3 separate regions of the Homo sapiens genome follow, and all the other regions are linked to region 3. The links come from fine-mapping of genetic effects on gene expression. A gene starts in region 3. Each other region holds a variant in brackets. All regions are shown on one strand. Distances are from middle to middle. Region 1 overlaps CEMIP2 (cell migration inducing hyaluronidase 2). Region 2 overlaps CEMIP2 (cell migration inducing hyaluronidase 2). Region 3 holds the start of CEMIP2 (cell migration inducing hyaluronidase 2).

Evidence for each region. PIP is the estimated chance that this variant, and not a neighbour inherited with it, causes the effect.
Region 1: its variant is fine-mapped to the expression of CEMIP2 in whole blood (TOPMed, PIP above 0.99).
Region 2: its variant is fine-mapped to the expression of CEMIP2 in whole blood (TOPMed, PIP above 0.99).

Annotation. Positions count from the first base shown.
Region 1 is chr9:71,739,484-71,750,319 of GRCh38, reverse strand. It overlaps CEMIP2 (cell migration inducing hyaluronidase 2), which reads left to right. Exons shown (of 24, transcript NM_013390.3): 2 at 1-277; 3 at 3,979-4,119; 4 at 4,741-5,302; 5 at 10,088-10,257. Among named protein-coding and RNA genes, the nearest start is that of CEMIP2, 24 kb to the left of the region's middle. RefSeq lists an enhancer at 5,622-6,486. The variant A/G (reference allele first, on the strand shown) is at 4,841.
Region 2 is chr9:71,678,829-71,689,664 of GRCh38, reverse strand. It overlaps CEMIP2 (cell migration inducing hyaluronidase 2), which reads left to right. Exons shown (of 24, transcript NM_013390.3): 23 at 3,819-3,922; 24 at 4,272-6,299. The coding sequence ends at 4,468. Among named protein-coding and RNA genes, the nearest start is that of CEMIP2, 84 kb to the left of the region's middle. The variant TATTA/A (reference allele first, on the strand shown) is at 6,324.
Region 3 is chr9:71,765,508-71,772,126 of GRCh38, reverse strand. CEMIP2 (cell migration inducing hyaluronidase 2) reads left to right here and starts at 3,614. Exons shown (of 24, transcript NM_013390.3): 1 at 3,614-3,770. RefSeq lists enhancers at 2,593-3,274, 3,275-3,956 and a silencer at 2,850-3,519.

The DNA of each region.
Region 1 (10,836 bases), 24 kb after region 3:
GGAAATAGTCGTCACCCATCTGGCTATGTTCCAGGGAAGGTTGTCCCATTGCGTCCCCCTCCTCCTCCAAAGAGTCAAGCTTCAGCCAAATTTACCTCCATCAGACGAGAAGACCGGGCAACCTTCGCATTCTCACCTGAAGAACAGCAAGCCCAGAGAGAAAGTCAAAAGCAAAAGAGACACAAAAATACTTTCATTTGTTTTGCTATTACTAGTTTCTCATTTTTTATTGCACTTGCAATCATTTTAGGAATATCCTCAAAATATGCTCCAGATGGTAAGTGTGTGTATATGCACATAGAACATATTCTAGAAGACAAAAGAGGAGGAAATAGTAGAATACTTAAAAAAAAATTTATCTTAAGTTGGCCCTAGCTAACTAATATGTAGTTAGGTAATACGAGGTGTCACTTCTTATGAATGAGAGCAATTGTTCAATAATCTGTTGGAAATGATTAAATGGTTGCTCTTCCTGTCCATTGTGCCACTTTGTTGCAGCACTCAGGGAGGTCTTGGAGTACCTCTTTTGGAAATGCTTTGAGGGCCTTCACTAAATTCTTATGGTAGGTATGATTTTTGGACTGCTGCAATTTTTTTTTTCTTTTTTTCTTTTTTTGAGGCAGTCTTGCTCTGTTGTCCTGGCTGGAGTGCAGTGGTGTGTTCTTGGCTCACTGTAACCTCCGCCCCCTGGGTTCAAATGATTCTCATGCCTCAGCCTCCTGAGTAGCTGGGACTACAGGCAAGTGCCACCACATCTGGCTAATTTTTGTATTTTTAGTAGAGACAGGGTTTCACCATGTTGGCCAGGCTGGTCTCGAACTCCTGACCTCAGGTGATCTGCCTGTCTTGGCCTCCCAAAGTGCTGGGATTACAGGTGTGAGCCACCATGCCCGGCCGCAAGTTTTTTTTTTTTTAGTCATACGTATAGTGAACTATATTAGATTTTTTTGTTTAAGTAAGTGACTAAAAATAATAATATTTGTGTTTGTGGCTTGAAATGGGCTTGGGAAGCAGTTCCAAAGGAAAAGTTTCAAATATTTTTGAGTAACAATATATATCCTGGAAGGGAAGCATCCTTTAGGATATATAAGTTCTGACACCTTTGTCTAAAAATCAGTCATTACTTCATAGTTAAATATTATGCAGGGAGATTTTAATTTCTTAAATGGTATTTTCTTTTCAAGTTAATGATATATCAATATTTTGAAAAGTTTTGAAGAAGATGGTTGCAAGTCAGCCTTATTGGAATACCAACAAAGAATTGCCTCATAAAAGAATACCATCCATCTGTCTAAAATCAAAGGACTCGGGGCTGTGAAGAGAGAAGACTCTAACAGCCTGGACTGGGTACCATATTTGTCTACAACAGATTTTTGTCAAGTTAAATGCTTCCTTAAGTGGCTGTAACAGTTCAGAGGCATTTTACTACTTATAAGACTTACAAATACTTTATTATTTAGTTTTCTTGGGTGCTTTCAAGGGATTTTTAAAATTTTAAGGTTCTGGGAGAGGTAGTGCTAGTACTTCTAAGAAAATAAACCTCAAATGAGAGAGACATGCACATTAATATCCTTATGGACCAAACAAGTAGACCACATTATGAACTTATAACATTGATTTCCATTGCATGCGGTATGACTTCCTCTCTCCTTTTCCCAGCAGAATAACCAAGTTCTCTGTGCTGATTCATAATAACCAAGTTCACTGTGCTGATTCATACTTCCCAACTCTTCTGCAGTAAAGGGATGCTAGACCAGTGGGAAATCAGAGCTGAAGTCTATGGCTTTGATTGGTGTTTTCATATTCCATCTAAAACAGGGCATTGCTGATATGGTTCCTTGAACCAACATTCTTTAGTTTCACATTTTGGCAGTGTAAAGTGCAGATCATCAGTGGAAAGATCTGGTATGCTGAAATATTTCAGGGTCAGCTTGACTGTGGTTATTGCTGTTACATAACTTTGATAATATACTCACTGCTCTTCAAGTGGGTAGCTGGGAAGGTGGGGTTGGCTGAGCTACTTTTCAGTGCTTTGTACAGACTACACATTTTCTCATTAAGTGCATTTTACTGGAAGGAAACAGACTGGAATTTTTGGTGATGGTTCTAATGAACCATGCTCTCCTGGGAAATAATTAAAAACAATTAAGAGAAATTATATAATCATTGAAGTAGGCTCCAGATCTCAAAAGACTGGATTTCCTTCTTTATAGCTGGGTACAGTGCTTGTTATAAAACTATGGAGAATTTCAGCTAGATGTTGTATGGGAAGAGGGAGGTAGAAAAGTTAAGGAATCCTCATTATTAAGGCAAAACAAATTTAAGAGTTTTTTTGTTTCTTTGATGGGAAGAAAAGCTTAAAGATTGTTTTTAGTATAATAGTGATACTCATTGACTTATCAGAAGCATTAAATATCAACAGTTATGATACTGCTGTGAGAAAAACTAATTCCATGAAATAATTGCCAAGGATATAACTGGTGAGGCTAATTGTAGCTGTGGTTAATAAGAGAAAGCATAAACCTAGGGCATTGTGAGAGCTCAGAAACAGGAAGATGTTTGCATTAGTGTTATGCAAGTTCAAAATGAGGAATCATTTTTTTTTCTGTATAGAACAATATGTTTGTGTAGCACCCTACCTCTCTACTTTTTCTCTTGTTATTCCTAAACATGTACCTGCCACCTTAATGAAAGGAATTTCTTCCTATGGTTTTTCAAGCATATCTTGCTTATTCTTACCTTAGCTGAGTTTAAATAAAGCCACCTTGGAATTCTGAACAACCAAATGGACTACTTGGATCTCAAGGGATAATTGCATTACTAGTGTTCTCATGATCCTCTTATTTAAATACTGCCCATCCTTTGGTGTCCAGCTCTCAAGTCACCTGTTCATGAAGCTGCCTCAGTTACTCCAGCCCCATGCCTCCTTTGCCTGAGGTCTTTTGAACCTCGACTGACTACCATATTGTTCAGTGTTTCATTATTTCATACTTGGTGTTTTTTCCCTCCAAAGCTTGCATATAAACTCTGAGGAAATGTGAGCTGATTCTATGCTTTATAAATTTTAAAATATCTGGTACAGAGTGGATAAATTGATGCTCCACAAATACTTGGCCATAGGTTGATCAAAATTGAAGGCGTGATTTTTTTTCTCCCCTCTTCAAAATTATGGCGGACCTTAAAGTTTTCATACATTAAATAGCTATGGCTATTTTAATTAAATACTGTTATATTTTTGTTATTATAATACCTATTCAAGAGGCAAGTTCTAATTCCAGTAAAGGAACACTACAAGTCAATAATCTCATTTTCTAAAAGGGGAAACTTGCGTATCACTCAGCTTGCTAAGTAATCTTTGGTTTCTCTAACCTGTAATTTCCTCATCTCTGAAAATGAGAAGTTATGTCTTTAGCCACTTGCCTCTTTCATTTTGTTGGGAGAGTGCACATGGCTGAAGATAGTGATGTTTCTCAGTCTTGGAGAGAGGTGCTATCAGTACTTACTTCATCATTCACTGTGTGCAAGAAGGAACTTGTGAAGACCTGATCAATGTATTATTTAGCAATTTTCATTTTTGATTTACCAGGATGTTGTGAACACATTTCTTTTCTAAAACAGCTTTCTAGTGTGAATCCCAAGAGAATGTATAATTTTGCCTCTTACTATTGGTTTATTTCCAGAGTAGATGATTCAGGGAAACTTTTTTTTTTTTTTTTTTTTTTTGGTGAAGTTTGTCCTGAACTAGATGCTAGCAATTTAGTTTTGTGGTAAAACTTTAAAATGGAAATGTGATGACAAATTAAAGGGTAAGATGGTTCTCTGCTGGTGGGAAGGCGTGGGATTTCCATTCTAATGGCAGGAAATCAACATATGTTAGCACATTTTTTGCAGATCTGCAGTAAATAATGGTAGTGCTTAGATTCGGCTATATTATTCCTGCATTTTAATGGGTTGGATGGAATATCAATGTGTTTATAGAAAATTGCCCAGATCAAAATCCTCGTCTCAGGAATTGGGATCCAGGACAAGATTCTGCAAAGCAAGTTGTTATCAAGGAGGGAGATATGCTCCGTCTGACCTCAGACGCCACCGTGCATTCTATAGTCATTCAGGATGGAGGTAGGTAATGGTTCCTGCCTATGGGAACTGCAAGGTTGCTCTTTAATGTGGGGGATATTTGATGTTCCTTATGTAGAAGACTATTTTTAGGCAGAATAGGCTTTAGTTTGTGGTGTCACTCTAACCATGGAGATTTGGAAAGATCATGAGATAAAACCAGAGAATTTATCCAGAGATAAAAAACATAGAATTTAAGAGCTTAGACCTTAGGTATCACTCAAATCAAGACCCCTGATTTATAGACAAGGAAACAGTTCCAGAGAGGTGATCTCTCAGAGCTAAATTTTTGTCACAATTCTGAGAGTGATTTTGTCACAATTCTGAGAGTTAACATGAGTAAACATATACAAAAATAAGATTCAGATTTGTAGACTCTTAGATATTTTTAAGAGAAATGATTTAACCTCTAAAGTGAGTAGGTTGAAATTCACAGTCATGGGCATTGAGAGTATATTAAGATATGAACTCTTCATTTTTCCCTTTAGTTTTCTAAGCAGATTCTTAGCGAATTCTTTTTTCCGACCTAATTGCGGAAGTGTATTTAACTTAAGGTGAAATCTATTTCCTTGTATCTCAGAAAGATGATTTAGAAGTTGGCTTACAGGGTGGTGTTCCCTGCAGGACTGCTTGTATTTGGGGACAATAAAGATGGATCCAGAAATATTACTTTGAGGACTCATTACATCCTGATCCAGGATGGTGGGGCGCTTCATATTGGAGC[A/G]GAAAAATGCCGCTATAAATCCAAAGCGACAATTACCTTGTATGGCAAGTCAGATGAAGGTGAAAGTATGCCAACATTTGGCAAAAAGTTTATTGGTGTGGAAGCTGGCGGGACACTGGAGTTACATGGGGCACGGAAGGCATCGTGGACGTTGTTGGCAAGGACCCTGAATTCCTCAGGCTTGCCCTTTGGGTCCTATACCTTTGAAAAGGACTTTTCCCGGGGCCTCAATGTGAGGGTCATTGACCAAGACACGGCCAAAATTTTGGAAAGTGAGAGATTTGATACCCATGAATACCGCAATGAGAGCAGGCGGCTTCAGGAGTTTCTGAGATTCCAGGATCCAGGTCGGATTGTTGCCATAGCTGTCGGGGATTCAGCCGCTAAAAGTCTCTTACAAGGAACCATCCAGATGATCCAGGAACGGTTGGGAAGTGAACTGATCCAAGGACTGGGCTACAGGTAGGCATACCTTCTTCCCAGATCCCTATCAGAGTCCGTGTCTGTGTGAGAGGAGAGTGAGGGTGGGGAAAGGAGCCACAGCCACAGCATGACTCAGGCATCAGAAGGGCCACTCTACCATTTGCATGTCTGGTAGCTTTGAGACATGGGGCTGGAGGATAGGACACCACATACAAAAGCTATTTTCATTGGCTTTGGTTTACAAAGCCCTTTGTGAACTGGAGTGCCAGACTTGTGAAAAGTTGAGAGCAGAAGTGTGGTACTGAAAAACAGTCAGGCAGTTTAAGGACAATTTGCCTCTGAAGATACTTCTTCCTTTCGTTACCTTCTGAAGATCATATGAAACTCAGGCTAATTGAGGCAACTTAATGAGTTTAAAGGTTAGGGCAGAATTTCATGCTAAGTTCTAAACCTGTCTTAAAAGGCTGAGGGGGTAGAATATGCAGTTTTTCTTTTTCTTTTTCTTTTTTCGGACTCCTTTGCAGGCTGATTGGAATCTGCATGTTTGATTGGCACAGGTCTATGGACCCCTGGCATATATGAGGAAGGAAAAAGTTAAAGGGCTAGGAAATTCATCCAGATAGTAGAATTCATTTCTGCTATTTATGGTTCTTGTACCCTATTCCTTTTATTTTTATTTTTAGTGACAGGGTCTTGCCCCGTTGCCCGAGCTGGAGTGCAGTGGTACAATCGTATCTCACTGCAGCCTCAACCTCCCAGGCTCCAGTGATACTTCCACCTCAGCCTCCCAAGTAGCTGAGACTACAAACAGTTGCTACCACACCTGTCTAATTTTTAAACTTTTTGTAGTTGAGGGGGTCTCACTTTGTTGCCCAGGCTGGTCTAAACTTCTGTGCTCAAGTGATCCTCCTGCCTCACCCTCCCAAAACATCGGCTTCATAGGCATGAACCACCACACCCAGCCTTCTTGTGCCATATTCTAATTAACTGTGATTTCCTAACGCAGTTCTGAGTCTAGGGGAAGTAGCCGACCTAACATTTCATTTAAAAGACAGAAGCTTTTAATTCTGCTGAATGCTTTTAGTAAAGTCAGGGAATATCTGTGGTGGAAAAAGTAAGAGTACCTCAAAACCGACATGCCGTAATGATCTAGTTACTATTTTTTCCTTTGATAGTAGGTTGTTGGAATGGGGTATTACCTACAGCAATTCTAGAACAGGCTAGAAAGACAAAAAATAGTGAAGAAAAACAGTCTGTAACATTTTAGAAATGGCTTTTATTCATGTAGGGGATATTTAGGAGATGCTAAGTGCTGGATACCCATGGATGCTTAGACGAAAGGACACTGTCTCAGAGCCCATGGTTAATCTAGTGGATAAACAGAGACCTAAATAGATGATGATCATACAGTGAGACATGCTGCAGTTACAGGGTGCAATGGGAGCGTGAGTATTAACAGAAGGAGCCTCTCAATTGGCCTAGTGAATCAGTACAGGCTCCCCAAAGGCAAGAGACTTGAAAGAAGTTCGGGAGCGTGCTGTGTAGACAGTGGAGAAGAAAGCTTTTTCAGACCAAGGGAATTCCATGTGCAAAACCTCAAAGGGTTTTTTTTTCTTTCTGGTTTTTGTTTTTGAAATATGATACACATGCAAAAAAGTGCCAAAAATAACAATGTAGAGCTTAATAAGTTGCCGCAATGTGATGCCTGTGTAGCCACCACCCAGGTCAAGAAATAGGACATTGCCAGCAGCCCAGAAGTTCCCTTCCTCCCCTCTGCTATGCATTAATCACTCTCTTCCCCACCGAAGGGAGCCATGCTCCTGAATCTGTGGGATCTACTAAAGTTTAGGTTTGCCTGTTTTTCAACTTTATATAAATGGAAGCCGACAATGTTATATTTTGTGTCCGGCTTCTTTGCACAGTGTTATGTTATTGAATGCTATTCATATTGTTGCATGTAGTGCTGGCTCATTTTCTTTTCTTTTCTTTTTTAATTTTAAATAGAGATGGGGGTCTCACTCTATTGACCAGGCTGGTCTCAAACTCCTGGCCTCAAGTGATCCTCCCATCTCAGCCTCCCAAATTGCTGCGATTACAGGCATAAGCCATGTGCCCGGCCGAGGCTCATTTTCTTTGCTGTTTATTTTCTGTCGTATGAATATACCACAGTTTATTTATTGGTGGCCATCTGAGTGGCTTTCCAGTTTGGACCTGTTACAAAATTGCTTCCTTAAATGTTCCTTGATCCATCTCTTAATGTACATGTGCATGTATTTCTATAATATATAAACCTAGGAGTGGAAGCATGATCTTTTCTAAGTTAGATACCTACTTTGTTTCATTATCCAGTAATGCCAGGGATTACAACTTGTATTTCTTCATGCTACTATTGTTTCTAGTTTTGCATGATCATTAGCTGTGACCATTTTGACTTTCTTAGGTTCCTCTCCCTACTGGTTTCTAAATTCCTTTTAAAATATTGCTCTTGATTTCATAGAGAACTTAGAGTTGTGATCTTTTGCCAGCGTTCCATTGCATTGACGTTATCTCCAATGTACATAAACACATAGGCCTTTGAAGATAATGTTCTGGTGCGCTGAAATTTTCCCTCAAGTGGAGGAGGGAAGTAGGAGTGTTTTGGAGATAATGTCGATAGAAGAGAAAGAACATTGTTTTATAGTTGCTGAGGCAGTTCTGGTAAAGAAAGGAAGCCTGTGATAATTCTTCCTCTCTTTTCTTCTCCAAATAGGAGATAATATATTGAGACATTCTTTATTTGATTCTTTCTGCTTTATCAAGTGGTATAAAACAAGCTACAAAGCATTGTCGTCCAAAGAGTAGCTAATCCATACAGGGGCGGCTGTGGAATTTGTAAGGGTGTAGGCATGCTTCGGTTAACTTTTATCTGTGAATATCTAGCCATCTGTCAGACACAGATTACATTTGTTATTTTTTTTCTAGAGTGGGAAGTTGACATTTTTCTTTTCGTGTTTTAAACCAGGAGTCTTAAAGCAGATTTTCTGGTTTTTAAAAATTGTCCCTTTGCGTTGATTGCTTTTGGTCACAAGTTTGAGCATGTCTCTCAGATATTTAGTATCAGAAATGTTTTTAGGCCGGGTGTGGTGGCTCATGCCTGTAATCCAAGCACTTTAGGAGGCCAAGGAGGTCAGATCACCTGAGGGCAGGAGTGCGAGACCAGCTTGGCCAACATGGTGAAACCCTGTCTCTACTAAAAATTAAAAATACAAAAATTAGCTGGGTGTGGTGGTGGGCACCCGTAATCCCAGCTACTTGGGAGGCTAAGGCAGGAGAATCGCTTGAACCCCAGAGGTGGAGGTTGTGGTGAGCCGAGATCACGCCATTGCACTCTAGCCTAGGCGACAAGAGTGAGACTCTGTCTCAAAAAAAAAAAAAAAAAAAAAAAACCAGAAAAGAAAAAGAAATAATGGTGTTTTCAAACACATTGCTGTCAACAAATAGACATATAGTATATAAAATTTAAAATCTGTTGGATAGTGATTCTACAGCTTTGATTTAATTTAGGAACGTTAAGAAATCTCTGCTGGCTGCGGTGGCTCACACCTGTAATCCCAGCACTTTGGGAGGCCGAGGCAGGCTGATCACCTGAGATGGGGAGTTTAAGACCAGCCTGACCAACATGGAGAAACCCCATCTCTACTAAAAGTACAAAATTGGCCGGGCGTGGTGGCACATGCCTATAATCCCAGCTACTCGGGAGGCTGAGGTGGGAGAATTGCTTGAACCTGGGAGGCAGGAGGTTGCGGTGAGCCGAGATTGCGCCATTGTACTCCAGCCTGGGTAACAAGAGCGAAACTCCATCTCAAAAAAAAAAAAAAAAAAAAAAAAAAAATCTAACTCAGTTCTCAACCTTGCCTGCACACCTGGAGACTTTAAAAAATCTTGACACCTAGGGTGCACCTTAGATCAATTATGTCAGGAAGAAGGATAAAAGAAGGATAAGACTCCCAGGCTACTGAAGGTTGATGATCACTACTCTAACCTCTAGTCTATAATTTAGGGGTTTTCAAAGTATGGTGCCCTGACCAGCAGCATTAACATAATGTGGTAACCTGTTAGAAATACAAATTCTCTGGTCCCATCTCAGAAACTGAGAGAGTGGGGCCAGCAATCTAATTCAGCATGCCCTTCCTTTCTTCTGTTGATCCTGATGCGTACTGAAGTTTGAGAACCACTGCCCAAATCAGTGGTTTTTAAGCCTAACTGCATGTTCCAGTCACCTGGGAACTTTAAAAACATAGTAAGACCCTGTCTCCAAAAAATAAAAATAAATTATTGCAAACTACAAATGCTGTACCCAACCTTTTGCAATTATTAACATGATTCCCTTTATCTGGGATGGGGTCTGTGCATTGATATATTTTTCAAACTCCCTGGGTAATTCTATTATGCAATTAGATTTTTGAGAACATTGTATTAATAGAAAGTTTAAAAGAGAGCATGTGATAATCATTTTAAGAGAAAGTAAATGGATTTTGGCCAGAATGTTATGTGTGATATGGATGTGTATTGAGGAAGTAAGTCAATGATTAATTGAAATTGTAGTCATCGGTCTTTCACCTATTACAGAGCTGGACAAACAAGTATTTAAAAAGTAGCTGCATTTCCTTCTAGGAGAACTAGGTGCAGTCAAGGTTTGGAACTGCAGCCTCATATAGAAAAAACATTAGGGATTGACGAAAATGAAATATGAGAATTAAACAGCACTCTGTAATAACATCTTTGTCAGGGATTTTGTGAATACCATGACAAGTAATCAAATGCACATGCTCTTTTTCCTTCTAGGCAAGCTTGGGCTTTAGTTGGTGTCATTGATGGTGGAAGCACTTCTTGCAATGAATCCGTGAGAAACTATGAAAATCATAGCAGTGGCGGGAAGGCTCTTGCCCAAAGAGAATTTTATACTGTGGATGGCCAGAAGTTCTCTGTGACAGCTTATAGTGAATGGATTGAAGGTAGGCAAGTAGAGTTTATACTCTTGTAAGACACTGATAAGTATTATGACAGATTTTTTTTTTCTAAGAATAGTATTATGTTCAAATGACAGTCCGCCTGGTTAGATTTCTCAACTAGTTGAAGTTGAAACTTAGTTTTCCTACTGTGCTTAATCTTTTAGAACAAAATCCAGTAATCTTTTAGAACAGGGGTCTCCAATCTTTTGGCTTCCCTAGACCACATTGGAAGAAGAATTGTCTTGGGCCACGCATAAAATACAGTAACACTAATAATAGCTGATGGGCTAAAAAAAAAATCTCATAATGTTTTAAGAAAGTTTATGAATTTGTGTTGGGCTGCATTCAAAGCTGTCCTGGGCCACATGTGGCCCACGGGCTGTGAGTTGGACAAGCTTGTTTTAGAACAAAGCTGAGTTGGGGGTGCTGAAACTAGAATAGACCATTCTCTAGTCTAGAAACAATCTTCTGGGCTTGGCGTGAAGAGATGATCTATTAGGGATGAGGAAGCTGGAATCAAGCCCCAGCTTTCTGCCTCCAAGATGACTGCTGTTTCTTTGCCTCTGCCAAAAAGCATAGGTG
Region 2 (10,836 bases), 85 kb after region 3:
CCTTTGCAACCCTCTGTCGCACTGACGGTCTTGGACAGCATTGCACTATGATTGTGATACAGGAAGTCATCACCTGGGTCACTTGGAAATGACTGGAAAAGAGTAAATTGATTTTTGAAGTGGCTGAGTGTGCAATCGCTCTTACAGAGCACTAGTCTGATTGGTTTTCTTTGATGTCTCTGAAGAAAGCTGCACAGGAGAGAAACCTTTCTTTTTCTGGGTTGGTGAGACCCTGCCTGGAGGCAAGGAGATGAACTCAGGGTGTTTTCTGCCTTTGCCGCAGATGTTGATTTATACACCCGCTTTCATTTAATGGAACCATTAAGGAAGGAACTTAAGCTTTCCCCAAATTAAAGGCCTATCTAGCTTTAGAATCATTTTCCAATAGCTTATGCTTTATAGAACCGGATGCCAATAAATTCTATGAAGTCACTGGATTATTTGGATGTAACATTAAATGTATATATGTCGTTCTGTCTTCTGGCTTAAGACACTTGTACAGCCTCAATTTTCTTGCAGGATTTAAAGATTTTTCCTAATGTTGAAAATACATGCACTCACTTCCCCTAAAACAATCCAGGACATAAATCTCACCACAAGTATTTAGGACAACATGGTAGTCCTGCAAGGTACCCCATAGATTTAAGAGGTAAAACCAACTCATTAACAGAAAGGCTTTTAAGATACTGGTAATGCTGTTTCTTGATCTGCCTCTGGTTATGCAGATAGGTTTCGTTTGCAAAAATTCAGTGTGTGTGTAACATTTTAACAAAGTGTTAAGAAGGTATGGAGCAACTGGCAGTGACTTCTAGGGAGACTGAGCACGTGTCTATGTGTATAGGGTTGCGGGGTGACCTGTAAATGATCTTATGGGTAATTCTGACCTATTGAAGAAGGTCAGGTCTGCAGGGTAGCCGTGCTTAGACTGCTGCACTAATTTTAGATTGTGTCACCACTGCTTTAGAAAGACTACAGTAGGCCAGGCACGGTGGCTCACACCTGTAATCCTAGCACTTTGGGAGTCTGAGGCAGGAGGATCACCTGAGGTCAGGAGTTCGAGACCAGCCTGGCCAACATGGTGAAACCTCATCTCTACTAAAAATACAAAAAACTAGCCGGCATGTTGGTGGCACCTATAATCCCAGCTACTCGGGAGGCTGAGGCAGGAGAACTGCTTGAACCTAGGAGGCAGTTTGCAGTGAGCCAAGATTGTACCACTGAACTCCAGCCTGAGCAACAGAGCGCGACTCTGTCTCTAAAAAAAAAAGAAAGAAAGAAAGACTACCATAAAGAACCCATACCAGCATGAAACTTAAGGTACTTAATCTTAAGAACCATCGAGACCCACATTAAGACATACCACACAAATTTCAACTTCCTGTAGGTATCCTTGATGACTCTGAAAATAAATCAATCTAATGTTACCTTTTAATTAATAAGAGCTACTCAGAGCCCCCTAAACACTGATTTGTTCTTGAAAATTTTTGTTTCAGTAATACCGGCCAAGAGTTCAGGCACAGTGGCTCATGCCTATAATCCCAGCACTTTGGGAGGCCATGGCGGGACGATTGCTTGAGGCCGGGAGTTCAAGACTAGCCTGGGCAATGTAATGAGACCCTGTCTCTATGAAAAATTTAAAAATTATCTGGGTATGTGGGCACATACCTGTAGTCTCACCTACTGAGGAGGCTAGGACAGGAAGATCCCTTGAGCCCAAGAGTTTGAGGCTGCAGTAAACTATACTTGCATCACTGCATTCCAGCTGGGGTGACAGAGCAAGGACCCTATCTCTAAAAAAACAAAAGAAAACAAAAATAGTTGCCCAGGCTGGAGTGCAGTGATGTGTCCACAGCTCAATGTAGTCTTGACCTCTCAGGCTCAAGTGACCCTCCTACTTCAGCCTTCCAAGTAGCTGGGACTACACGTGCACACCACCAGCCTGGCTGGTTATTTTTTGTTTTTGTTTTTGTTTTTAATTTTATTATTTTTCTAATTTTTTGTGGAGATGGAGTTTTGCTGTGTTTCCCAGGCTGGTCTTGAACTCCTGGGCTCAAATGATCCTCTCATCTCAGCCTTCCAAAGTGCTGAAATTAAAGGCATGAGCCACTGCACCCGGCTGGCCAAGAACATTTCTGATTAAAGTTTTTGAAAGAGTGAGTTTGTATGTGTACACACACACACACACACACACACACACACACAGAAAATAAATACATTATTAAATATATTGCTAAAGGATATGCAACAGAAGTTGAATAAAAGGAGAGACTCTGTTTCTGAATGGAAAATTAATAAATGTTAATTTCATGGACCAGTTTCATGGAAGATAATTTTTCCATGGACTGGAGGTGGAGGGGGATGGTTTCAGGATGATTCAAGTGCATTACATTTACTTAGTTAAAATATAAATTTGACACATTTCCATTAGTGTCCCAAAAGGTACTTTTCTACTGTACTTGACAGTTGATACTGTAGTTCATCTGGAAGAATAAATGAGAAAGTAGTAAAATATAAACAAATTACAGTAATACAAGGGCTTGTTTTTATCAAATATTAAAATGGACCGTGAAGCCATAGGCCAGCATAGTTTTGGCAGAGAAGAGCAAGATCAGAGAAGAACGGAGAATCCACAGATAGGTCCAAGTATGTATGTTGGCTTACTATGTGACAAAAATGGTAATTCAAACCATGGAAAACACATTTAGTCGTTTATTTATTTTTAGAATTGTGTTTATCCATTTATTTAATAAATAGATAATAGAACTTAAATAAATAGAGTATTTGAAACAAAACAAAACCATTCTCCCATGTTACAGTAGACTTACTCCCTGATAGACAATGGAGAAGGAAGGGTGAGGGGTGGATGACAGGAAATTACTGAATAGGCACAGTGTACATTATTTGGGTGATGGATACCCTAAGTGCCCTGACTTCACCACTATGCAATCCTATGTATGTAATGAAATTGCACTTGTGCCTCACAAATTTATACAAATTATAAACAACAACAACAACAATAGACTATTCCCTAAAAGAGCTGTGCCCCAGACCATCCACTAGGTCAGCAGTCCCCAGCCTTTTTGACATCAGGGACTGGTTTCATGGAAGATAATTTTTCCATGGACTGGAGGTGAAGGGGGATGGTTTCAGGATGATTGAAGCACATTACATTTACTGTGCACTTTTTTTCTATTATTATTACATTGCAATATATAATGAAATAATTACACAGCTCACCATAATGTAAAGTCAGTGGGAGCCCTGAGCTTGTTTTCCTGCAACTAGATGGTCCCATCTGGGGGTGATGATCAACAGATCATTGGGCATTAGATTCTCAGGAGCACACAACCTAGATCCCTCACATGTGCAGTTCCCAATAGGGTTCTGCTCCTATGAGAGTTGAATGCCACAGCTGACCTGACAGGAGGCGGAGCTCAGGCTGTAATGCAAGTGTTGTGGGGTGGCTGTAAATACAGATGAAGCTTCGCTCGCCTGCTCACCTCCTGCTGTGCAACTTGGTTCCTAATCTACTGGTACCCATCCATGGCCCAGGGGTTGGGAAGCCCTGCACTAGGTGAACGTACGTAAATGATTTGGTTTATGTATGCGTTACCCCTTGTAAGAGCAACGTGTGAAGCCCATGGTGGTGGGGTGGAAGAGTGGGAATTGGATGGAAAATCATCTAGACTTTTTTCTTTTTGGAGTTCTGCTTTTATCTAATATTTCTATTCAGCAGTCAGTTCAGAAAGATACTCAGTAGAAAGATACTCATGCTGAAGGATTGAAATTGGCTCTGACTTTCTAAATTTCACATACAGGTCCATTGTTCTGTTGAGCACAAGAGGAGAAATAAAGCAGTTAAACATTTCACACTTACTAGTACCTCTGGGATTAGCCAAACCAGCTCATCTTTATGACAAAGGTTTGTATTTGTATTATTTCATGAAGTTCTTACAGGGCCAGCAACATAGGTAATTTTATGGTGCAATTCAGCTACCAGACCATTTTCATGAGCTTGTTTGCTGGAGTGGGTATCATTAAGATGATTTCTAAATAAGGGCACAATGTGAGAGGAAGTGTGTTGGGATGTGGTTTGTTATCTGGGGCAAAAGGTGGGTGGTGAGAGTTCATTTGCTGATGTAAGGAAGTGCAGAGTTTTTTAATAGCTGCCTTTGTTTTGCTCACCTCCGACTCACCTCCTATATTCTCTTGCTGGAATGTAGCTATAAAAATTGATTTTTTTTCTTTTTCTTTTTTTTTTTTTTTTTTAGGGAGTACCATATTTTTGGGATTCAGTGGAAACTTTAAACCATCATGGACTAAGCTATTTACCAGTCCTGCTGGACAGGGCCTTGGGGTGCTTGAACAATTCATACCTTTGCAGCTGGACGAATATGGTTGTCCCAGAGCCACCACTGTCCGCAGAAGAGACCTGGAACTGCTAAAGCAAGCTTCAAAAGCACATTAGAGACTAACTGTAACTTAAGTGCTGGGGGAAAAAAAATGTGAACTAACTTATTTAATTTATGGCATTTTAAAATGACACTGTTAACCCAACGGAACCATTTTCCAGTTTGATACAGAATGGGGAGAAAAGAAAGCGTTTGAAATTATTGCTTGGATACCAGCTTCATGCACCTTCTAGTTGTACAAAATGTTAAAGACGTTGTTTGTATTTGTAAGGCTGGTGTATTCAGAGAGCAGATCTCTTATTCCTCACTTTCCACCCCCGTATTTTGTAATGACCATGAGCAATGTTTTTACTTTTTGTATAATGGGGTGGGGTGGAGTGGGGGCTTCTGAGAGTCAGCCTGAGGTCTTTAGAGGACCAGCTATTGTAGCACCTTGGATACTTGAAGTTTAATGCTCAGTTGGGTCGGGTGGCAGTTGACTTGGTGGCTGGCATGTTCAGCAGTGCCTGGGGCCCTGTTTCTGGGCAGCCTTTGAGGATTTTCTATGATATTGAATGACAGTTTTAAGTGGCAACTCAGGCCCAGCTCATGCCCTTTTTTGCCTGGACATGTGCTATTTTTATTCACTTATATATCAATTACTTGTAAGGGTTAAACTTTCAAACAGGAAGTATATTGGGACAAAAGGGCTCTTGGGGATTAGATATCCCTTTAATCTGTGACCATTGGGCAAAAAATTTTCCTGCAGCAAAAGTCTGAGGCTGTTGGGACCATTTTTGCAGCTTTAATCCTTAGCCTCTTTTGACTGTATATTTGTGTTTAAAATGCAGAGCTCAACTGAATATTTCCTTTTTTGTTTTGTTTTGTTTTGTTTTAAGAAGTAGGTTGTTTTCCTGAACCGTAAACTTGTATCATTTTAACTTGCACAAAGGAAGTCTGTTCTTGGTATTGCTCTTGCACTTGGGTTTTTTGTTATTGTTTTGTGTGGATTTTTTAAAGCTTTTCTGTTCACCCTCCTGCCAGGAAAATCCCAGAAAGCTTAATGATACCCCAAAATGATTACACCCAGGGAGGAAAAAAAGGAGCGCTTTCTAGGGTCAGAATCGTGGAGAGAATACTCAGAAATGAACCTCTTTAAAGCCTTGCAGGAATGAGTCACTCTTACTTAATGAAATGTTAAAGCCAATTAAAAAGCATGCTGTGATGCCCAGCTTCCCTTTCCACAGGGTGCATGCGTCTCCTGCTGGTGAATCACATGCGGCAAGAGGCAACTGGCTCCACAGCCTGGGATGCTGCCGTACCAAGAGGAAAGAAGCAGCAAAATGCCTTTACGTTGTTCTAAACCCCCGACGCATAAAGTGTAGAGGAGGGATGGCCAAGGGTGGGTGGTAGAAAGTGTGTTCAGGCTGACACTGGCAATGAGTACAGATAATTTCACTTTCCTCTTCTAGGGGCAAAGGCTGATGGCCTCTACCTTTGTATCCAGGAGAAACTGCAGAGCAGCCCTGTGACTTTACAAAATATGCTACCTCAAAGTGCTACCGATAAACCTTTCTAATTGTAAGTGCCCTTACTAAGGGCACATGTCTTAATCAAAGTTAGTTTTTTGTTTTCTGGTTTGTTTTTTTTTTTTGTATATTGATGAATGAGATCTTACCTATTAAATATATTATTGGATTATGGTTCCTGAAGGTCATTAGAGTGTGTGTGTGTGTGTGTGTGTGTGTGTGTGTTTTATGACTTAAATATCTTTACGTGTGTTTTTTAGAGCTTGGTTCTTTAAAGATTTGGAGAAGATATGTAAATTACCAAGGCACTTGGTTTTTCTGTTTTATATACTAATAATCAGGGCCTAAGTTAAATAAAAATATGTGTGCATGTATTTTATATATGTGTGTATGTGAATTTATT[TATTA/A]TTTATTTTATTATTATTGTTATTATTTTTGAGATGGAGTCTCGCTCTGTCACCCAGGCTGGAGTGAGGTGATGCAGTCTCAGCTCGCTGCAACCTCCACCTCCCAGGTTCAAGTGATTCTCCTGCCTCAGCCTCCCAAGTAGCTGGGATTACAGGCACCCGCCACCATGCACTGCTAATTTTTGTATTTTTAGTAGAAGTGGGGTTTCACCGTGTTGGCCAGGCTGGTCTTGAACTCCTGACCTCAAGTGATACTCCTGCTTTGGCCTCCCAAAGTGCTAGCATTACAGGCATGAGCCACCGCGCCTGGCCTGTATGTGAATTTATATCTCTATCTATAAATTTAAAATTCCAGATTCCAGCTGTAAAGAAGTTACTGACGGAAGTGAGGAAGACACTTGGTGGACAGAATCCACCAAGTAAATATTGTAAGAGTAAGCTTCAGAAGGGCAGGGACTGTATTCTCCAAGGCAGAGGTTCTCCATCTTGGCTGCACACTGGAATTACCTGAGGAGCTTTAAAAAAAAATATAGAGGCCTGGACTTTACTCCCTTCCCCCCAGATTCAGATTTAATTGGTGTTGGGTGCAGCCTGAGCACTGGAATTTTTTTTAAAGCTCCCTGGATGATTCTAATATGCAGCCAGGTTTCGGAACCACGGCACTAATATAATAGGCCCACTGTTTAACTCCAGTCTGTAATTTTTTTGTGACTAAAACAAAATTGCATTTACCTATTATTTTTATTTGCATTTCCTATATTACTCACAAAACTCCCAGCCCTAAACAAAGCATTTCTCTATTGTCTCTTTTTAATAGAAGCTTTTAATACAGTTTTTAGTCCTCAGTCCTCTCAAATCATTAAATTGGTTCTATACACTGATATATACATTTCAGGGAATTGGGAGCTAGCAATCTGTTCTATTTCTACCAAGAAAATATATTCAAAGGTGATTTATAAGTTCATAAGCATTTTCCATCAGGTGAGGCAGTTGGTTGAGCTCCAAAAATGTGGTCGTCCACAAATCAGCCAGCTGACGAGCAACACAGAGGGCTCTCATGTATCCACAGACTAGGGTTTAAGTCTTTGCTGTGATTCCTGCCTCTCCACCTGAGTCAGCATGCCATATATTATCTTCAGAGGCTGGAAGAGAGTGCTGGCAAGAAGATGAAAGGCAGACGCACCATCTCATGGACTATGACTGCAAAGCAGCCTCTAAGCTGATGTTTAGACTCGGGGATGGGAAGAGAGGATTTATGACTCCTCTGTTCTCTAACTTCATCAAGAGACAACACATCCTCATGCCATTAAAGTGGGTTACTTTGTCTTGAGGAGGGGAAGGTAATGAAGTGACAGATCGAGGCTTGAGTGCTTTAGATAACTACAGTAGGTTTTCATTCCTTAAGAGATGAGGTCATGTTTGGATGTGTCTGGTTGAGAAGCATTTCAGTAAGAAGGAATGAGCTTAGTTAGTTCAAGTGTTTTTTTCTGTTGTTCCTAGTAGATAAACACAATACATAGATTCAATGATGACAATGTTTGTTAATTTCATCATGCAGAGTTGGAGCTTACTTCTGGAATTCTTATTTGGTTTCCAGATACTTATTAAACAATGTTTAATAACCTGAGAAATTCCCCTGGAGGTAAAGACCTTTAATAGGGCAGCAGATTTGTATCATTACTGTTAGTTATGATTACATTATTACTGTTATAACCCAGTGTGCTGGAAATGTGAGCAGACACTATTTAAGCTAGTTTTCAACAAAAGGTCATGGAGGGAAAAAAAATAAAGGAACTCCATTCCTGGTTCCTTGCTCACAAATGGCAAAATGCTGTTCACAGACTTGCTAGACCATTTGAGTCATTTGGAAGAGAAAAGGTTTTTTTGTTTTTCCCTTATTTATCTTCAATTTGAGAAAAAAACTAATAAAAGGATGCTTCAGTAGGCCCTGGTGTTGTGGATAAGGGCACGCACACTTTTTATTTTTATGTGGTAAATTTAGAGAATGACTGACTGAACTGTGATTTCTAAATGAGGAACTGTGCCCCACAGGACATCCAAAATTATCAGCCATAGCAAGCTGTGAACATGTTATATCTGAAAATACAGCAAAGGGTGGACCAGAAAACATCTTTATAGATGTGTTTTTGTAATTTTCCTAAGAGGGACAAAATAATTAGTCTAAATATGAAAAATTAAGTTTTAAAGTTCATCCATAGAAAAGCTGGCTTCATGATCACAATTGAAAAATCCGAGTTGGCAAACCTCTGCCTGCAATTCTGAGCTAGGAATCATTTTTATGTTTTTAAATATAACAAAAGAAAGAAAAAGAAGAGTAATATTTTATGTGGTGAAAATTCTATGACATTTAAATTTCAGTGTCCATAAATCAAATCTTATTGGAACACAGCCAAGCTCATTCTTGTATACTTATTAACTGTGGGCAATTCCTGCTGCAGGGGTAGAAATGAGTAGTTGCTACAGAGACTGTCAGTCCAAAAATATGTACTGTTAGGCCCTTTACTGAAAAAGTTTACCAACCTTTGATCTCAGTGTAGTGTAGACCAGCGTTCATTGTCCTGTTCTTGGAACCTTACCACATTGTCAGAATTTTTTAAATAGCAACTTAAGGAAGAAACCTGCATCAGAATCGCCTGAGGTGCTTGATGAAAATGCAGGATCCCAAGCCCCAGCTCAGACAGGAGAACTGGCGTTTCCAGGAGTTGTGAAGCTGGGAATATTATGTTATAACAAGCTTTCCAGATGTTTCTTGTGAACACTAAAGTTTGACCATCTCATAGCATGTAGTGAGGCTGTTCTTCCTTTCCCTCTTTCCCTTCAACAGAGAACACATCTGAACAAAATTGATTTTTTTTAACCTTAATGATTCTATCTACACAGTCTTCCCTAGAACTTTTTCTGACTAGGGCAGATTTCATATTGGGCAGAGTATGTGGCTGTTACTGGGGCAAAGGTTTGGAGCCCGTGATTAAGTCCTCCCGCCATGATGCCTGAAATACCACTACAATGATTCCTTTGGCTACAGTTATTCCTACTCTGAAATCCCAGCCATTCTTTATTTTCTGCAAGTTTGTTTTATTATTTTAAGGATTTTGAAGGAAAATGTACATTTGGCCACAATTAGGCTGCACAGACTAACAAAAACATAAGTTTATTTGCTTTTTGATGAAACTATCCACCCTTTTTACTAATTTTACATTTATTGAAGCTCTGATTGATAATTTCAGATGTATTTTTTTGTGAGGTAGAATGAATCATTTCATACAAGCAGTTTGCTTTGTAAGCAAAAACCTTTTAATGCATGAACTTTATGGAGGGCTGCAGGAGGTGGCTGAGTAGTGGATAATGAGATTGACCCTTGCCAGGGAAGAGGGTGGGTGTGGGAGGTTCACCTTCTCCCATCAGCCCATGTTGATTGTCAACATCCAGTTCCTGAGGGAGGAGCGCCTGGGTCAGGTAGGTTTCTGATGTGGGAGAACGCAAGACTTCCAAGTCTTAGGAGGCAAGAAACATCCTTAGCTCCCACTATGGGTAGGAGAATGAGAGAATTCCGATGGGAGAGAAAGATGACAAAACTTGTTGACTCTTTCAAGAGTGCATGCAGTCAGTTGTTTTTTAAGTAAAATAGTTCTTAGAGGAAGTGAAGTGGAGTCAGGGTAAAGTGTCTGATACAGTTACTTGCTGTAGGTATGGTTGTTTTGCTGACCAATCTAGGTTTGATTCCGCTAAGGCTCTCTACTTAGCGGTGGTCCTAGGAGCAGCTTCCTCCTGAGCCTCAGGTTTCTCATCTATAAAGTGGATCCATTAGTAACTTTTGTGAAATTACAGGGGGGATTAAATGAGAACAGCTGTGGCTCCTGAACATGGCTGGTCATCAGAAACACGTGATGGTTTGTTTTCTAAAAAATTAGATTTCTAGACTCCTGTGAATTCTAATTTAGTAGTGTTTTTGTTGTTGTTGTCTTGAGGGTTAAGGATTAGGGAATGTGGATTTTTAAAAAACAAACTTCTAAGATTATGCCAGTTTTGGGAACCACTGAGGATACCTGATGCAAACCCTGCCCTAGTTTCGACACACTCTGTTGCTGTTACTTGTATCTAGAAAATGAGACCTCAGGCCAGGCAATACCCATTTACTGACTTGGTTTGAACATCACGAGGTTTGCATTCATGCTCTTAGTTGCCCTAGCACCATAACTCAACAAATCAGCTGTGTACAGACTGGAGCTATGAAATGTGGAAAACAAACAAACGTGGAAAACATGTGGCTTTACCCTGTTCTGCTGCTAGTATGTATAGTTTTTAGCTCTTCATTCTTGTGAGAGGAAACTTTAGTTCAGTTAATAATTTGTCTATTCTAACCCCTCTGTACCATAAACTAACAGGGATCAGAAGCATCTCATTTCTAACTATCTCTCAGGTTTTTTTTTTTTTTTTGAGACAGAGTCTCGCTCTGTCGGCTAGGCTGGAGTGCAGTGGCACGATCTC
Region 3 (6,619 bases):
CTTGTCAGTGTCTCAGAGCCTGCTTCCCTGAGAACTCAATCTGTGACATCAGTCCCATTGATCAGAGAAGTCTGTGTCCTCTTACTTTGTTGGTTTCCTTCATAGCTTCCTTTCACATCAGTTTCCTTTGATTTTTTTTTTTTTTGAGACGGAGTCTCCCTCTTTTGCCCAGTCTGGAGTGCAATGATGAGGTCTTGGCTCACTTCAACGTCTGCCTCCCAGGTTCAAGCAATTCTCCCGCCTCAGCCTCCCGAGTAGCTGGGACTACAGGTGCGTGCCACCATGCCCGGCTAATTTTTGTATTTTTAGTAGAGGTGGGGTTTCACCATGCTGGCCAGGCTGGTCTTGAACTCCTGACCTCAGGTGATCCGCCTGCCTTGGCCTCCCAAAGTGCTGGGATTACAGGCTTAAGCCACCGTGCCCGGCCTTTCCTTTGATTTTTTATGTTCCAGATAAATATCTAAAAACAAAAGTTTATACAATTCTCAAAGATAGGCCACACACAGATTCAATCCCCCTACCCTTTTTTTTTTAGTTAACAGACTATATTTTAGAGCAATTTTAGGTTCACAACAAAATTGAGCGCAAGTGTAAAGAGGTCTCCTACACCCCTGTTCCCCACTAGCCCACTCCACTATCAATCAACATCCATTTCCCTTGGTTTGGGCAATAAATACAGATTGTGGAAATAAATAAGTCCTTTTTAAAACCAAAAATTTTATTAGACTAATGTATATAAATTTTTAATTGCTTGTTTTGTTTTGTTTTGTTTTTTTGAGATGAAGTCTCGCTCTGTAGCCCAGGCTGGAGTGCAGTGGCTCGATCTTGGCTCACTGCAAGCTCCACCTCCCGGGTTTACGGCATTCTCCTGCCTCAGCCTCCCGAGTAGCTGGGACTACAGGCGCCTGCCACCACACCTGGCTAATTTTTTGTGTGTTTTTTTTTAGTAGAGATGGGGTTTCACCATGTTAGCCAGGATGGTCTCTATCTTCTGATCTTGTGATCCACCTTCCTTAGCCTCCCAAAGTGCTGGGATTACAGGCGTGAGCCACCGCGCCTGGCCTAATTGCTATTTTTAACATTTGAGTGGTTTGCAGACTTGATTCCAAGAGGTTCTTACTGTGTGGCCTTGGGAAGACCCTTTAAATTTTCAAGTCCTACTGTCCCATCTTTAAAACGGAAATAATAATTAGTGGGAGGATTTAATTAGACAACATATCCCATAACATATCCTAACTCCAAGCAAAGTGCCTGGCACTTAATAAGGATTCAAAAAATGGATATTTGTAATATAAAGTTGGCCCAGCACAGGCCTCCTATGCTGCAACATATCACCCAAACTCAGTGTAGCTTACAACTGAAGTTTATTCTTTCACACTTCTGGAAGCAGGAGACTGCGCTCAGTTTCACTGGGCCAAAATCAAGGTGTCAGCAGGATCTTGCTCACTTCAGAGTTTCTAGGGGAGAATCCTTGCCTCTGTGCTGGCATTCCTTGCCTTGTGGAGGCATCGCTTCAATCTCTGCCTCCACAGTGGCCAGCCCTCCTCTGTGTGTGCTAACCACCCCCTTTCCCCTTATAAAAGTACATGTGACTGCAGTTAGGACCCATCTTGATCATCCAGAATAATCTCCCCAACTCAAGAAGACCCTTAATTGAATCACATATGCGAAGGCCCTGCTTCTGTCTATGTAAGGTAATATGCACAAGTTCCAGGACTTAGAACCTGTTATCTCTGGGGAGGGAACATTTTTCAGCCTAGCACACGGGTGACACAGTTTCTATCTTTATTAAGCACAATCCAAAACACCTTTGGACCATGAAAACAGTCTTTTGTCCCTTCCATCTTGTTATTCAAAACTATGTTCCTTATTTTAAAAACCTTTCCTCCCTGCCTATCCCAGAAGGGACAGCGGCTCTCAAAGGCAGCTGGGTGAAGTTTCTGTAAGATCTCAGCACTAGCTCGCGCTGCTGTTTTGGAGGCATCTTTCCAAGGCTTTAATTAATTAGAGGATGCATTCTAGCCCTGTTTCCCAAACTTACATATTCCCGATACCTCTGATTCAGTAGATTGCGCGACGTCTGGCAATCCAATTTTTTCTAAGTGCCCCAGGGGATTCTTATCATCAGCCAAGATTTGGAAACAGTAATTTCTTATACAAAGTCCTGAACTAATACCCTTGAAATAGGGGATTCCCCTTCACTGCCGGGTGTGTCGCGGTTACAGGACTGAGTTTGTTGAGGGAGGAGGAATGAACAACCCTGAAAACTAAACTATCCTACCTTGTATATTATTCACTGAAAGAGTTTCCTGGAGGGAAAACTTCCAATTCCAATTAAATCGAGGATGACGACGGCCCGGATTTGGCAGTCCTGCAGCTGTCACTAGCTCGGGACCTCGTGCGTCTGAGTGATCCAGCCCGGGCCGCGCCCTCACCCAGAGCCAAGGCTGTGAGAGCAGCTCCAGCGAGGGGGCAGGGTGGCGGCGGCAGGGCTGCTTCAGGGCCGGTGCCGGTGTCCTCAGAGCGGCGTTTTGGCACTGGGGTGGGCCGGGGCGTGGCTTTCGGCGCCACCTCTGCAAGCGGCCGCCACTCCAGAGTGGCGCAGGTAGGGGGCGTGGGAAGACCTAAGTATATTTATTCCGGCCTGCGAGCGGGATGCTGGGGTTGCTCCAAGGGACCAGAAGAGCTGCCCTGTGTCCCAGAGCAGGCTGGTTCTTCTGACAGCGCTGAGAACCTGGCGCTCGCGCCTGGCCAGGTAGGGGCTGTGACTGGACGCTCAGAACATTTGTGGGAGTGTGGAAATCTCTTTACGGGTGATGGGGCTCAAAGTCTGACGCAGCCGAGGGTTGATGGGGTGCAGTCACGCTCAGCCAGGGGACTTTGGGGGCGCAGTGTCAGGCTCAGCCAGGGAGTGACAGGCGCAGTACCAGCCTTATCTGGGGGTGCTGGAGGCACAGGCTCCGGTTCGGCCAGGCGGGTGTGCGCGCCCAGGAAGGGTAGGAGCCTGCAGCCGCAGCGGGGGGCGCTGGCTGGGGCTCTGCCCCGCCGGCAGTGCGCTCGGGCGCTGTTCCAGCGCGCGGCAGCGAGTGGCGCTGAGCCTCCGCTTTCGCAGCTCGCGGGGAGCGGGGCCGGCGGGAGGGGCCGGGCGGGGCCACCGCCTCCTCTGATGGCAGGCTCCTCCTCTCCCTCCGCCTCCCTCGCTCTCCACCGCCCGCCCGCCCGCCCGCCCAATCCACAGTTCCCGGCCCAGCCGAGCCGGGCTGCTTGTCTGGCCGGCGGAGGCTGAGCGCGACCCTAGCAAGCCGCGGCGCCCGCCGACCAGGGACAAGAGCGACTCCTGGGACCCCACTCTGCCCCGCGCCGCCGCCTCCTCCCCTGTTGTCGCGGGGACGCTCAGGCCCGCGCCGCCCGGGCCACGATTCTCCTCCTCTTTCTCCCGGAGGGGAAGGAACGGAGAAAGCCGAGCGGCGGCTCCGGGAGAGAGCGAGCCGAGGCCCCTGCCCCCGAGGCTCGGGGCAGGAGGAGGAGGAGGAGGAGGAGGCGGAGGCGGAGGGAAGTGCGCGTCACTCTCGGGAGGAGAGTATTTCACCTCCAGGCAGAGGCTGCGGCTGCCAGTTGAGTACGAGCGGCAGCTGCGGGCGCCGGCAATCGAGTGGCTTCCTGGCCATGGAGAGGAGATCTGGACCCGAGGACGCCAGGGACTCCTCTCCGTCTCCCTGGACCGCTGTGTAGGCACCTGAGTTAACGGACGCTAAGCGGGGTAGGGGAAGGTAAGAAGCGACTCGGTCACCCGCCCCCCCACCCCGCTCCACCTCGTTTGCTGCCCTCGGGGGCCACTGCGGGGACGCAGACCCGGGTCTCGCCCACCTTTTCTGCTCCCGGCGGCCTGGCCGGCTCCGGCGTTGGGCATTTCTGCCGAAAAGGAAAACGTCCTCCCGCCCTTCCCCCGTGCGCCTCCTTTCCCGGTTTCATCTCTGGATTGGGACTGACCCGACTCCCCAGGAGTCAGTCCTCTCTTCTTAAGAAAGGGTCCTCGGGAACGGTGTCTTGATTTCTTTCTCTCCACTCTCTCTTTTCATTACGTTTACGGGGAAGGGAACAATGGACCTTTCAAAGTCGGTGCGAACAGCCTTAAACTTTCTGGAGAGGGATGGGGTGAGGGGATAAACCCCACAGTAAGCCGATTACAGTGAAAGGTTGATGGAATGTGCTTTGCAGTCCGGGCTTCAGTGCGCGCGCGCTTGTGCGTTTGGGGTCATCTTTGTCTCCTTACAATTCCCCTGGGTTGGTGGGTCCTCCGCCCTCCGCCCCCTGCCTCTCTGTTAGCTGAGGTAAGGTGAGGCTTTAAAATCGTGTACAGCTTCCTTTAAATCTGGGGAATAGCCTTAGCCCTGGACCCTATTCCCAGCTTTTCTCTGCAGAGTTGGGAGATCCTGGTAAAGGAGGGGGGCCCTCTCTGTGAGGACCCAGAGTGCTGCTGTTAATAGCACTAGTGGCTACACCCTTAGCGATAAAACCAAGGTCCTGAATTCCCTGGATGCTCTCTGCTGAGGGTTGATGAGTGTCACCAGACTTCGACCTGGAGCGGAAACAGCTCACTTGAATTCTCCGCAGGTTAGGAAAACAGACTTTGATATATATCTCCTTTTATCAGCAGTTGGGATTAAGGATAGACTGCCTAATAATTTTTAAAACTTTCATTGTGCACATGAGCTACTCACTGCCTTGAGTTCACTCCCCTTGATTCAGTGTGACAGAGTGATGCGCTGCTGCACAGTTGCATGTATTGAGATGTGCTGCTCTTCCCGGTAAAAAGTGAGAAGAATTTAGAGAGAGGGGAAAGGGTAGAGGCTTCACCTGAGCTGAGGGAGGCCTGACTCCCCAGAGCAGCCAGGCAAATCTGTTGGAAATGGCTCAGTGTTAAAAAAACACCTTTAAAATGGTTAGCCTTATCTTTCTTTGGTTGGCTAGAATGGAGCTACTAATGCTTATTTGACCCTTGAAGGACGCTTGTTCTTTTCAGAATTGGTCTGGGTATCATACTGTGGTTGTGGGTCTGATTACCTATACAAAGGGTTCTTTTTAGTTTGCATTTCTGGGCAAAGCAGAAGAATGTGTAGTAGGCATGTCCTCTGCTTAGTAAACATTGGGTAGCACTTTAGAGTGCTTTTCTCTTCACACCGAAATGACTTCCCCCAGCTTCTGTGTACCTGCATTAGAGGATCAGTTTGGGCGGAACTGGAAATCTGTCTTCTGGCTTTCTGTTCAGTCCTCCTGACGCTGTTTTTTTCTGATGTATGTGTGCTTAAAGGCTCAGAAAACTAAGATTAGAAGCGAATTCTGAGTCATCACCTGTTCTTATTAACCTGTGAATGAGATAGTGAGCTGAGGACTCTCCTGTGTGTGGACAGGGAAATAGAATCTGTAAATTCTTACATGGTGTTTATCTGGATATTCTGTGTCACAGTTAATTATTTGAGTAGTCTCCTTCCTTGATCTAGTCTGTAACCAGTGACTTTTCAGAAATGTCAGATTCATAACAGGAAACCAGAATGGGGCAACACTTCAGTCATGTTCTAATAGGCCTAATCAATGCTGTCCTCAAACAGCTATCAAGAAAAGACAAGCTGGAGGGTAATGTAGTCTTGTGGGCCATTATCTTGAAGTTGACAGGGTACTGCTTAGAGCTACATGCTTTGGGCAAGTTTCTGAAATTGAGAAAGACAAGCCACATTTTAGAAAGAGGAAACTTAGGCCGGGCACAATTGGCTCACGCCTGTAATCCCAGCACTTTGGGAGGCCGAGGCAGGTGGATCACCTGAGGTCGGGAGTTTGAGACCAGCCTGGCCAACATGGTAAAACCCTATCTCTACTAAAAATACAAAAAAAAATTAGCCAGGTGTGGTGGTGCACGCCTGTAATCCCAGCTACTCGGGAGGCTGAGGAAGGAGAATCGCTTGCACCTGGGAGGTGGAGGTTGCAGTGAGCCGAGATCGTGCCACTACACTCCAACCTAGGTGATGGGAACGAGACTCCATCTGAAAAAAAAAAAAAGAAAAAAAAGAAGAAACAATAATCACTACCAAATTCATGGTCTTAGACTCACATGGAGTGCTGTATGTAAATGTGTGCATTGTGATGTGTGCTCTAAAATATGTATGAGCATTGCATCATTCACCCACCCACCATCCATTCAGCTAGCACTTATTAATCACCTATTGTGGTCCAGACCCTCTGGAAGCAATTGCAACACCTGCTTTGTGGAGCATTCATGTTGGTAAAGAGAAGGAGTTGAAGTGGTTGCAACCCGGGAGGCCACAGGGATTGAAGATACCTGTGTCACTTGCAACTAGAGAGATGACAATCTCTGCTATTGAAGAAATGAGCCTAGCCCCGGACATAAGGAAATGAACAATTAGAAGGTCCAATAAGTGCATGTCTGGGAGAATTACGCACAGAACGCTCTAAGAAGCCAGAGAAGGAACAGTTGGGGGTGGGGGAGCAATTTTGTGAGAAATAAAATTTGTTAAATCAGACAAAATAGTAGGGACTGAAAACTAGTGTCAGAAGTACTATCTTAAAATGGTGAAGATTGGAGGACTTGAAGTCAGACTTGGAT